Linked DNA regions of Homo sapiens: region 2 is linked to region 1. Evidence: fine-mapped expression QTL. A gene starts in region 1. The other region holds a variant in brackets. All regions are shown on one strand. Distances are from middle to middle. Region 1 holds the start of RPL3L (ribosomal protein L3 like). Region 2 overlaps LINC00254 (long intergenic non-protein coding RNA 254).

The links. PIP is the estimated chance that this variant, and not a neighbour inherited with it, causes the effect. A credible set is the group of variants that fine-mapping cannot tell apart.
Region 2: its variant is the best candidate, but not a certain one, in a credible set for the expression of RPL3L in whole blood (TOPMed, PIP 0.80).

The regions. Positions count from the first base shown.
Region 1 is chr16:1,952,003-1,957,262 of GRCh38, forward strand. RPL3L (ribosomal protein L3 like) reads right to left here and starts at 2,687. Exons shown (of 10, transcript NM_005061.3): 1 at 2,627-2,687; 2 at 1,954-2,146; 3 at 872-1,040. The coding sequence starts at 2,629. RefSeq lists an enhancer at 1,402-2,391.
Region 2 is chr16:1,872,991-1,878,477 of GRCh38, forward strand. LINC00254 (long intergenic non-protein coding RNA 254) reads right to left here. Exons shown (of 3, transcript NR_033914.1): 3 at 5,295-5,487. Among named protein-coding and RNA genes, the nearest start is that of MEIOB, 3.6 kb to the left of the region's middle. The variant G/A (reference allele first, on the strand shown) is at 2,288.

The sequences.
Region 1 (5,260 bases):
CAGCGGCACAATCTCAGCTCACTACAATCTCCACCTCCCAGGCTCAAGCGATTCTCCTGCCTCAGCCTCCCAAGTAGCTGGGATTACAGGTGTCTGCCACCACGCCCAGCTTATTTTTTTATTTTTATTTTTTTTTTTGTATTTTTAGTAGAGACGGGTTTTCACCATGTTGGCCAGGCTGGTCTCGAACTCCTGACCTCAAATGAGCCACCCGCCTTGGCCTCCCAAAGTGCTGGGACTACTACAGTCGTGAGCCACCACAAGCCGCCCAAATTAGCCTTTTAATTAACCCTGAGGATTAGAATATTTGTTTCCTCTTTTTCCTCCATCCTGATTTCATCTCCAGCCTTCTAGTACTCATGTTTTTTGTTTTTTGTGTTTTTCTTGAGATTGAGACAGGGTTTCACTCTGCCACCCAGGCTGCAGTGCAGTGGCACGATCTCAGCTCACTGCAACCTTCACCTCCCAGTTCAAGTGATTCTCCCACCTCAGCCTCCTGAGTAGCTGGACTACAGGTGCGCACCACCCCAGCCAGCTAATTTTTGTATTTTTTGGTAGAGATGGGGTTTCACCATGTTGGCCAAGCTGGTCTCAAACTCCTGACCTCAAGTGATCCACCCGCCTCGGCCTCCCAAAGTGCTGGGATTACAGGCGTGAGCCAGCACGCCCAGCCTACTCATCTTTTATTGAAATGAAGGCAACCACACAACACACACACACACACACACAGACACTCCTACCTCCCACAGACGGTTGAGACTTCGCTTCCTACTCACCCACACCTATCATTTCAGCAAGAGCTAGAGCCTCAGGCACCCAACTTCTGTGGTCCCAGCAGCCCTTGGACGGCCCAGCCAAGGGCGGTGCTCACCAGTCCTTGTAGAATCGGCGCCGGCACTCATCACTGAGGTGTTCTGCAAAGATGGTCTTGAAGCTCCGGAGACCTCGAGGGGTGGCCACGTAGCCCACCACGCCCACCACCACTAGGGGCGGCGTTTCTACAATTGTCACCGCCTCCACCTCCTCCCGTTTGGAAATTTCTGGATGAGACACAGGGATGGGGCATGAAGGGGGACCTCCTGAGGCCTGTGGGGGAGGGAGTGGAGAGCCGCCCACATAGGGGCAGGACAGGAGAGTGTGGGGCCAGCCAGGACAGCATTCCCCAGAGGGTGGGGCTGAGCCCAAATGAGCATTTGTTATTCTAATGATTACAATGGATTTCTTTTTCTGTTTTTGAGACAGGGTCTCACTCTGTCACCCAGGCTGCAATGCAGTGGTGCAATCATAGCTCACTGCAGCCTTGACTTCCCAAGCTCAAGTGATCCTCCCACCTCAGCCTCCCAAGTAGCTGCGACTACAGGCACTCGCCACAACGCCCAGCTAATTTTTGTATTTTTTGTAGAGATAGGGTTTCACGATGCCGTCCAGGTTGGTCTGCAACTCCTGGCCTCAAATGATCCTCCTGCCTCGGCCTCCCAAAGTGCTGGGATTACAGGCGTGAGCCACCATGCCCGGCCTGCATTATTTCTTACAACTACTTGTGAATCTACGATTAAAACAACAAAAACTAACTATATACATAGGCGTACATATGAAATAATGGTACATGAAATAGACCCGAAATGGCCAAAAAGTGCAGATGTCCTGGCAGGTGGTTTGAACCGAGGGCTTGGGGCGCTGGCCTTTGAATCCTAGCTCCTGCGCTTACCGCCCCGGTGACTGGACCAGGTTCCTCACTGCTTTGTGCCTCAATGTCCTCATCTGCGAGCTGGGGCCATGACAGAACCCGCCCGGAAGCCCTGCCTGTGCTCAGCGTCCACCCCAATTCCCGGGGGCGAGGCCTGGTGCTCCCTGGGACTGTGGCCCTGTCTGGACCAAAAGCGTGAGTTCTGGCTCCGAGCATCTGGAAGGTTCAGCCCTCCCCCTCCCCCAAGGGTCCCAACTGTGACTCACTGAGCCCCGGCCGGTGCACCTCCCGCAGGGTGTGGGTCATGCCCGCCTTGTAGCCCAGGAAGGCCGTGAGGTGCACGGGCTGGCTGGGGTCATCCCGCGGCCACGTCTTCACCTTGCCCCGGTGCCGGTGGCTCCTCTTATGGGGCAGGAAGCCCAGGTGTCCGTGCCGAGGGGCGGAAAACTTCCGGTGGGACTGGGGGGCAGGAAGGAAGGAGGTCAGACCTGGGGTGTCCCTGGTGGTAGAGCTGGATGGTCCCAGAACCCATACCTGGAGAAATGGACTACAGGCTTCAGACTGAGGCCTGTGCTCAGCACCTCCCCTGTCTGCCTACAGGAGGGGAGAGGAAGGTTCACCAAGGGGCAGCGTCTTTGGGATGGGGTCTCCATAGCCACAGGCTTCCTGCCTCTGTGGGCTCAGCCTGGGGCCCAGGAGGGTCGCACCCATACTGCAGCCAAGGGCTCCTGGGGCAGGTGGCCGCTGCCATCTGTTCATCTCCAGGGCCCTCCCAGGCCCAGGAGCCCAGCCCTCGTCCCCTTGTTTCCCCCTCCAGCCTCCCATCCCCTCACAGGCTGGGAGACTGTCCCTCTGAGGGAGCATCCAGAAGCCCAGCTGTCCCACCCCCCCAGAGTTCCAGCTCCAACCCCAGCCCACCCTCACCCTGGTCCCACCAACCATGGTGGCCGATCCCTGAAGGTCAGGAAGGGGCCTCGCCGCTAGCCGCCAGAGGTCGAGTGGCAGGGCCAGGACTCACAGCTGCCAGTTCCCAGATTAGCCCCTGGCACAGTCAGCAGGGTCTCCGGTGCCAGGAGCAGGCAGGGGCGGGGCAGTGTTGGGGGCATCAGATAGACAGCCTGAGTGGGGCACCCGGAGCCAGGGCTGGCACTCCTTTCCTCGATGGCCCTGGGGCTGGGTCATGACCCTCCCAGGACAGGACTGGCCAGGCAAGGTGGGGGCCAAGGTAGCCGGTGGGGGCCTTCTCCCAGGCAGCGGCCAAGAGGAGGGGTCTGGAGCAGTTTGCCGACTTGGAGGCAGAGGGGGTTCCTGTCCTGAGGGCTGGGAGACAGCTGGATAAACAGCGGGGAGCAGGGCTGGGGACAGGGCAGACGAGGGGGAGGGCTGACTGCACCTTGAGGATCACCAGAGCTGTGCTTCCAGATTGAGATCCCTGGCTGAGTGCAGTGGCTCATGCCTGTAATCCCAGCACTTTGGGAGGCTGAGGCAGGAGGATCACTTGAGCCCAGGATGTCAGGCCGCAGTGAACCTTGACTGCACTCCAGCCTGCGTGACTGAGCGAGACACTGTCTTAAAAACAAAAAAAAAGCCAGCCTGGCCAACATGGTGAAACCCCATCTCTACTAAAAATATAAAAATTAGCCGGGCGTGGTGGTGTGGGCCTGTTAATTCCAGCTACTTGGGAGGCTGAGGCAGGAGAATCACTTGAACCTGGGAGGCAGAGGTTGCAGGTTGCAGTGAGGCGAGATCGCGCCGCTGCACTCCAGCCTGGGCAATAGGGTAAGACTCCGTCTCAAAAAAAAAAAAAAAATCAAGATCTGACTCCTGTCATTCACAATCATTGAAATACTTTTATGAATTTATCTTTTTTATTTTTTTGAGATGGAGTCGCTCTGTTGCCCAGGCTGGAGTGCAGAGGCGTGATCTCGGCTCACTGCAAGCTCCCCCTCCCGGGTTCACACCATTCTCCTGCCTCAGCCTCCCAAGTAGCTGGGACTACAGGCGCCTGCCACCACACCCGGCTACCTTTTTGTATTTTTGGTAGAGACGAGGTTTCACTGTGTTAGCCAGGATGTTCTCGATCTCCTGACCTTGTGATCTGCCTACCTCAGCCTCCCAAAGTGCTGGGATTACAGGCATGAGCCACCGCGCCTGGCCTTATTTAAAGAGACAATGTCTCATTCCATGGCTCAGGCTGGAATGCAGCGGTGTGATCATACCTCACTTGCAGCCTCAACCTTTTGGGCTTAAGTGGTCCTTCTGCCTCAGCAGGACCTAATTTTTAAATGTGTCTTGTTGTAGAGGCGGGCGTCTCACCATGTTGCCTAGGCTGGTCTGAAACTCCTGGCCTCAAGTGATTCTCCTGCCTCAGCCTCTCAAAGTGCTGAGATTACAGGTATAAGCCACAGCACCTGGCCAAATTTAAATTTTGAATTTAAGTTTTGAATGAAGAGGGGGTTGAAATCTTATTTTTTTTTCTTTTTTTTTTTTTTTTTTTGAGACAGGGTTTCTCTCTGGTGCCCAGGCTAAAATGTAGTGGCACAGTAATAGCTCACTGCAGCCTCAGTCTCCTGGGTTCAAGCAATCCTCCTGCCTTCATCCCCCTGAGTAGCTGAGACCACAGGCACTTACCACCATGCCTCACTAATTTTTGTATTGTTTATAGAGATGGGGATCTCATTATGTTGCCCAGGCTGGTCTCGAACTCCTGAGCTCAAGCAATCTGCCTGCCTTGGCCTCCTAGAGTGCTAGGATTACAGATGTGAGCCACTGCGCCCCTCAAAATCTTTTTCAATTCAAAGATTCTATGGTTGTAAAGTTTTGTTTTTTTTGTTTTTGTTTTGAGATGGAGTCTCATTCTGTTGCCCAGGCTGGAGTTCAGTGGCACAATCTCGGCTCACTGTAACCTCTGCTTCCTGGGTTCAAGCTATCCTCCTGCCTCAGCCCCACTAGTAACTGGGATTACAGGTGTGTGCCACCATGCCCAGCTGATTTTTGTATTTTTAGTAGAGATGGGGTTTTGCCATGTTGGCCAGGCTGGTCTTAAACTCCTGACCTCAGGTGATCCACCCGCCTCGGCCTCCCAAAGTGCTGGGATTACAGGTGTGAGCCACCCCGCCCAGCCAGTTGTAAAGTTCTATAGCAGTGGAATTCTAGAGTTTTTCAGGCCTATGACATCTCTAAGATACGTGGTTCTTACATCAATAGATACTAAGATTCTAGGCTACTAAAATGTCAAGATTGTTTGGGTCTCATGGTTCATATTTCTTTCCAAGACTTTGGCCAGGCACAGTGGCTCATGTCTGTAATCTCAGAACTTTGGGAGGCCGAGGTGGGCAGATCACGTAAGGTCAGGAGTTTGAGACCAGAAACATGGTGAAACCCTGTCTCTACTAAAAATACAAAAAATTAGCCGGGCGTAGTGGCAGACACCTGTAGTCTCAGCTACTCAGGAGGCTGAGACAGGAGAATCACTTGAAACTGGGAGGAGGAGGAGGTTGCAGTGAGCCGAGATTACGCGCTGCACTCCAGCCTGGGCAACAGAGCGAGAGAACTGTCTCAAAAAAAAAAAAA
Region 2 (5,487 bases), 79 kb before region 1:
TTAATTAATTAATATATCTACATCTAATGATAGATTTGGCATGTAGTACATCAAGAAAATACCCATAGATGGGCTGGGCGCGGTGGCTCACGCCTGTAATCCCAGCACTTTGGGAGGCCGAGGCGGGCGGATCACGAGGTCAGGAGATGGAGACCATCCTGACTAACAAGATGAAACCCCATCTCTACTAAAAATACAAAAAATTAGCCGGGCGTGGTGGCGGGTGCCTGTAGTCGCAGCTACTCCGGAGGCTGAGGCAGGAGAATGGCGTGAACCCGGGAGGCGGAGCTGGCAGTGAGCTGAGACCGCGCCACTGCACTCCAGCCTGGGTGACAGAGCGAGACTCCGTCTCAAAAGAAAAGAAAAAAGAAAAAGAAAGAAAAAACCCTAGATGTGTATATCTATGTATGAAAAATATATATATAATTAGATGTGCTAAGGATTGGACTTAGGTGAATCTGACAAAAATTTTCTCAGCTCTTCATGTTTTTAATTACTTCCATTTAGAAATCTTTTTAGTTTAATGACTTATACTAATTTTTGTTAACAGAGTACCAACCCAGGGCAAGTAAGATCCAAAAACTAAGTCCATTAAATTTGTCACCTACTACTGTCCACATGTAGCATTATTTAAGTTTCTCTTTAAAAAGAGAAGAACAACTTTGGTGCATATAACACACACATATTATAAAAGAAAAATACCACTGTAGAACCAAGTTTTATGTTATTATTAAAATACAGTTTTTCTTTTCCTCATTTTTTTTTAATTTCCCAAATAATACTGGGAAGCAAAATAAAGTACCTGCATTTCACCATTTCAAATATAATGGGAAGAGTTGGGTTTTTAAATCGTCCCTATTCCTTTCCAGTCTCTGCCTTTAAAAGAAGATATTTTTGGCCGGGGTTGGTAGCTCATGCCTGTAATCCCAGCACTTTGGGAGGCTGAGGAGGGCAGATTGCCTGAGCTCAGGCGTTCGAGGCCAGACTGGCCCAACGTGGTGAAACCCCATCTCTACTAAAAATACAAAAATTAGCCAGGCATGGTGGCGGGAGCCTGTAATCCCAGCTACTCGGGAGGCTGAGGCAGGAGAATCGCTTAAACCTGGGAGGCAAAGGTTGCAGTGAGCCAAGATTACGCCACTGCACTCCAGCCTGGGTGACAGATGGAGACTCCATCTCAAAAAAAAAAAAAAAAAAAAAACAAAAAAAAAAAACCTATCTTTATCTTTCCAAAAGAATAAACTAGTGGCCGGGGGCAGTGGCTCACGTCTGTAATCCCAGCACTTTGGGAGGCCAAGGTGGGCGGATTGCCTGAGCTCAGGAGTTGGCCACCAGCCTGGGCAACACGGTGAAACCCCATCTCTACTAAAACACAAAAAATTAGCCAGGCGTGGTGGCATGCGCCTTTAGTCCCAGCTACTCGGGAGGCTGAGGCAGGAGAATTGCTTGAACCCAGGAGGTGGAGGTTGCATTGAACCAAGATCGGGCCACTGCACTCCAGCCTGGGCAACAGAGAGAGACTCTGTCTCAAAAAAAAAAACACAAAATAACAAAATAAAATAAACTAGCATTTTAAGTCCATCTTAAAGGAGAGGAAAAAATATAAAAATAGTTTTCATGCATTTTTCATTTGAGCCTCAGTGAAGCAATAATATTCTAAAATTTTTTAAATTTTGTCACGTTTTAGTAAATTAATTTTTGCAGAAAGCTACATAAGGTTAAGCAAACAGTGTCAGCCTTGCCAGGACACAACAGGCTTCTCATAAGCCACGATGCTTCAAAATACAAGCCTAAAAGAGTGGAATTGCTTCACGCTCGTGAAATTAAGTCTCCCTTGTTGTGTACGGAATTTGTTTCTTCCATTTTTTATAGCAGTTCTGTGAAATTGGCTTGCTCTTAACAATAGGATTGACTTGTCAATATATTTTGGATGTACACGAACAGAAATAAGGACTAGAAATGCTAGCTTGCCCTTGCCGCTTGATGCAGAAGTCAAGGGTGAGCGAACAAGGGTCAGAGCTGAAATAGCTCACATGTCTGGCTAAAGAAACGGTAGTTGGCTACATGGTCAGCTCCCCAGAGCATGCCAGCTGTCAAAACATCTAGGAGCTGTCACAAAGGAGTGACAGGCAAAATATATAGTCATAAACTTTACACGTTCTAATCAGTAGAAACGTTGACAGTTATTTTAATGAATTACAAGATAGAAATTCATTAAAAATTGACAGTTATTTTAATGAATTACAAGATAAGCTTTTATTTATTTAACAAAACTATAACTTTTCCA[G/A]CATTGATCCCGTGACTATGGTCTTCCTCCCAGGAGCTGAAATACTAATAGATCAGTTACTGGCATAATTAGTCTCACCCCCACTCGTCACTCCATCAAAGGACTGATCATCTTTTTTGTTTTTCTCCCAAAACAGGGTCTCACTCTGTCACCCAGGCTGGAGTGCAGTGGCACGATCACAGTTCACTGCAGCCTCGACCTCCCTGGGCTCAGGTGATCCTCCCACCTCAGCCTCCCGTGGGACCGTAGGTGCACACCACCACGCCGGCTAAGTTTTGTATTTTTTTGTAGAGATGGGGTCTCGCTATATTGCCCAAGCTGGTCTTGAACTCCTGGACTCAAGCAATCTTCCTGCCTCAGCCTCCCAAAGCACTGGGATTATAGGCATGAACCACTGTGCCTGGCCTAATCATGTTTTAAATAGATTGTAGGCCAGGCGTGGTGGCTCACCCCTGTAATCCTAGCATTTTGACAGACTGAGGCGGGTGGATCACCTGAGGTCAGGAGTTCGAGACCAGCCTGGCCAAGATGGTGAAACCCCATCTCTACTAAAAATACAAAAATTAGCCGGCATGGTGGCACATGCCTGTAATCCCAGCTACTTGGGAGGCTGAGGCAGGAGAATCACTTGAACCCGAGAGGCGGAGGTTGCACTGAGCCAAGATTGCGCCATTGCACTGCAGCCTGGGCAACAAGAGTGAAACTCCATCTCAGAAAAAATAATAATAATAAATAAATAAATAAATAGGTTGTAGATACACTAACATTTACAGATTTTTTGTAAACTTTTGCAGAAGTTTATGTAGAGAAGAGGAGTGAGGTAACCTGCAAAAGGGACTGGAAGAACTAGATGTGGAAATCGTGTTTAGGGCCAAAAAGAAGCAATTTAAGAGCTACTGGAGGCCGGGCGTGGTGGCTCACACCTATAATCCCAGCACTTTGGGAGGCCAATGTGGGCGGATCACCTGAGGTCAGGAGCTGGATACCTACCTGGGCAACGTGGCGAAACCCCGTCTCTACTGAAAACACAAAAATGTATTGTGGTGGCAGGTGCCCGTAATCCCAGTTACTCGAGAGGCTGAAGCAGGAGAATTGCTTGAACCTGGGAGGTGGAGGTTGCAGTGAGCCGAGATCGCGCCACTGCGCTCCAGCCATTTGCAGCATTGCCAAGTATGTAAAGCTCAGCTCCTAAGCTCTTTTAAGACTCCGTCTCAAAAAAATAAATAAATAAATAAAAATTTTAAAAAAGGTTGAACGGTGAATTGAAACTGGAACTGAAAGCCTCAGGACAAGGTGAGAGGTGCTGAGCTGAAGTGAGTAACGTGCTGGGCTTGAAATAACTCAGCATCCGTAGTCCGTGCCCAGGGACCTGGAGTGGTTCCTGCGTGCTGCATGTCTGGCACCCCGTACTAGAGGGAGCAGAAGAGGGCATGAGCACACAAGGCACAGGCTTTGACCTTTGGAAGCCTATCCCATGGGAAATTTACTGAGGTGACAACAGAAGGAAGGGCCCATGTCTTGGGAGTGCTGTCATGGCCATGTTTCAGCACCATTTATATTAAACACACACACACACACACACACACACACACACACACATATATTTTTTTTTTTTTTTTTGAGATAGAGTCTCGCTCTGTCACAAAGGCTGGAGTGCAGTGGCACAATCCTGACTCACTGCAACCTCCACCTCCCGGGTTCCAGCGATTCTCCTGTCTTGGCCTTCCAAGTAGCTGGGATTACAGGTGCGCGCCACCACACCCAGCTAATTTTTGTATTTTCAGCAGAGACAGGGTTTCACCACGTTGGCCAGGCTGCTCTTGAACTCCTGATCTCAAATAATCTGCCCTCCTCAGCCTCCCAAAGTGCTGGGATTACAGGCATAAGCCACCGCGTTCAGCCATAAACACATATAATTTTTTAAACCCTCCTAAATCATTGCAGCGTACCTTTGCCAGCTATGTGGCCATTAACAACATCTCTGACCGAGCTGTTCCAGCCCCACCTTGCCAGCCGTCTGCAGCATTGCCAAGTATCTAAAGTTCAGCTCCTAGGCTCACCCCAAGCCAGCTCAGAACCTTCCAATTCTATGGAAAACACCTGGTAACTGAAGCTCAGCGTCTCAAAGGCAGCCTTGAATCCTCCCTTCTCCTCCACTGTCATCATCAGGAGCCAGGTTCTGTTTTTCCTTAGCACCTGCCCTTGTCTCTCCACGTCTGTTGCTGCCACCCTCCTGCGGCTCTGGCAGTGTTGTCAGGGGATGGAGCAGCACGCTGCAGGGGCTCTCATCTCCCCTGCCCCAGCCCATCTCATGCCCTCAGAGGGATGAATCTTACCACATGACGCTTCTCAGGGCTGCACCACAGCTTTCCCTAGGCGGAAACCTCCAATGCTATCTATCACAGGGGCACAAATTCTTCTGTAAGTTGCTATATGTAAAGGGCTTTGTGGGCCAGACAGTATCTGTTGCAATGAACCAACTCTACTCTACTTTTATTTATTTTATTTTATGTATTTATGTATGTATTTATTTATTTGTGTTTTGAGACAGGGTCTTGCTCTGTCACCCAGGCTGGAGTCCAGTGATGTAATCACAGCTCACTGCGACCTGAAACTCCCAGGTTCAAGTGATCCTCCCACGTCAGCCTCCCGAGTAGCTGGGACTACGGGCGTGCCCCCACCACACCCAGCTAATTTACTGTATTTTTTGTAGAGACAGGATCTCCCTAGGTTCCCCAGGCTGGTCTCGAACTCCTGGGCTGAAGCGATCCTCCCACCTCTGCCTCCCAAAGTGCTGGTGTTATAGGCGTGAGCCACCGCACCCGGCCAGGCTTTGTTCTTTATGGGGCTTATTTACATGGTTAAGGGTTTGCTCAGAGCTTGAGAACCTATTTATATTGTTCTCATATTTCGCAAATGTTTAAGGAAGCAAGAGAAAACTGCGAGTGCAAAAGACCAATTTCAGTTTTTAAAATTATCACTCTGAGAAAAGGACAATAGATATTTCTTAACCTGCTTAATTTCAGTGTTTATTAATCAGAGTGCTTTTATCTTAGCAGTGTTATTGCGCAGTTGTCTGAAATGAGAAAATAAATGGGGTTTAGGAGGAGTTAACATGCATGGTAGAAACTAAAAGTCAGGCTGTCTGGTCAAAAGTCTCAGCCTTGCCACTAATTAGCTGTGTCACTCAAGCATCTGAA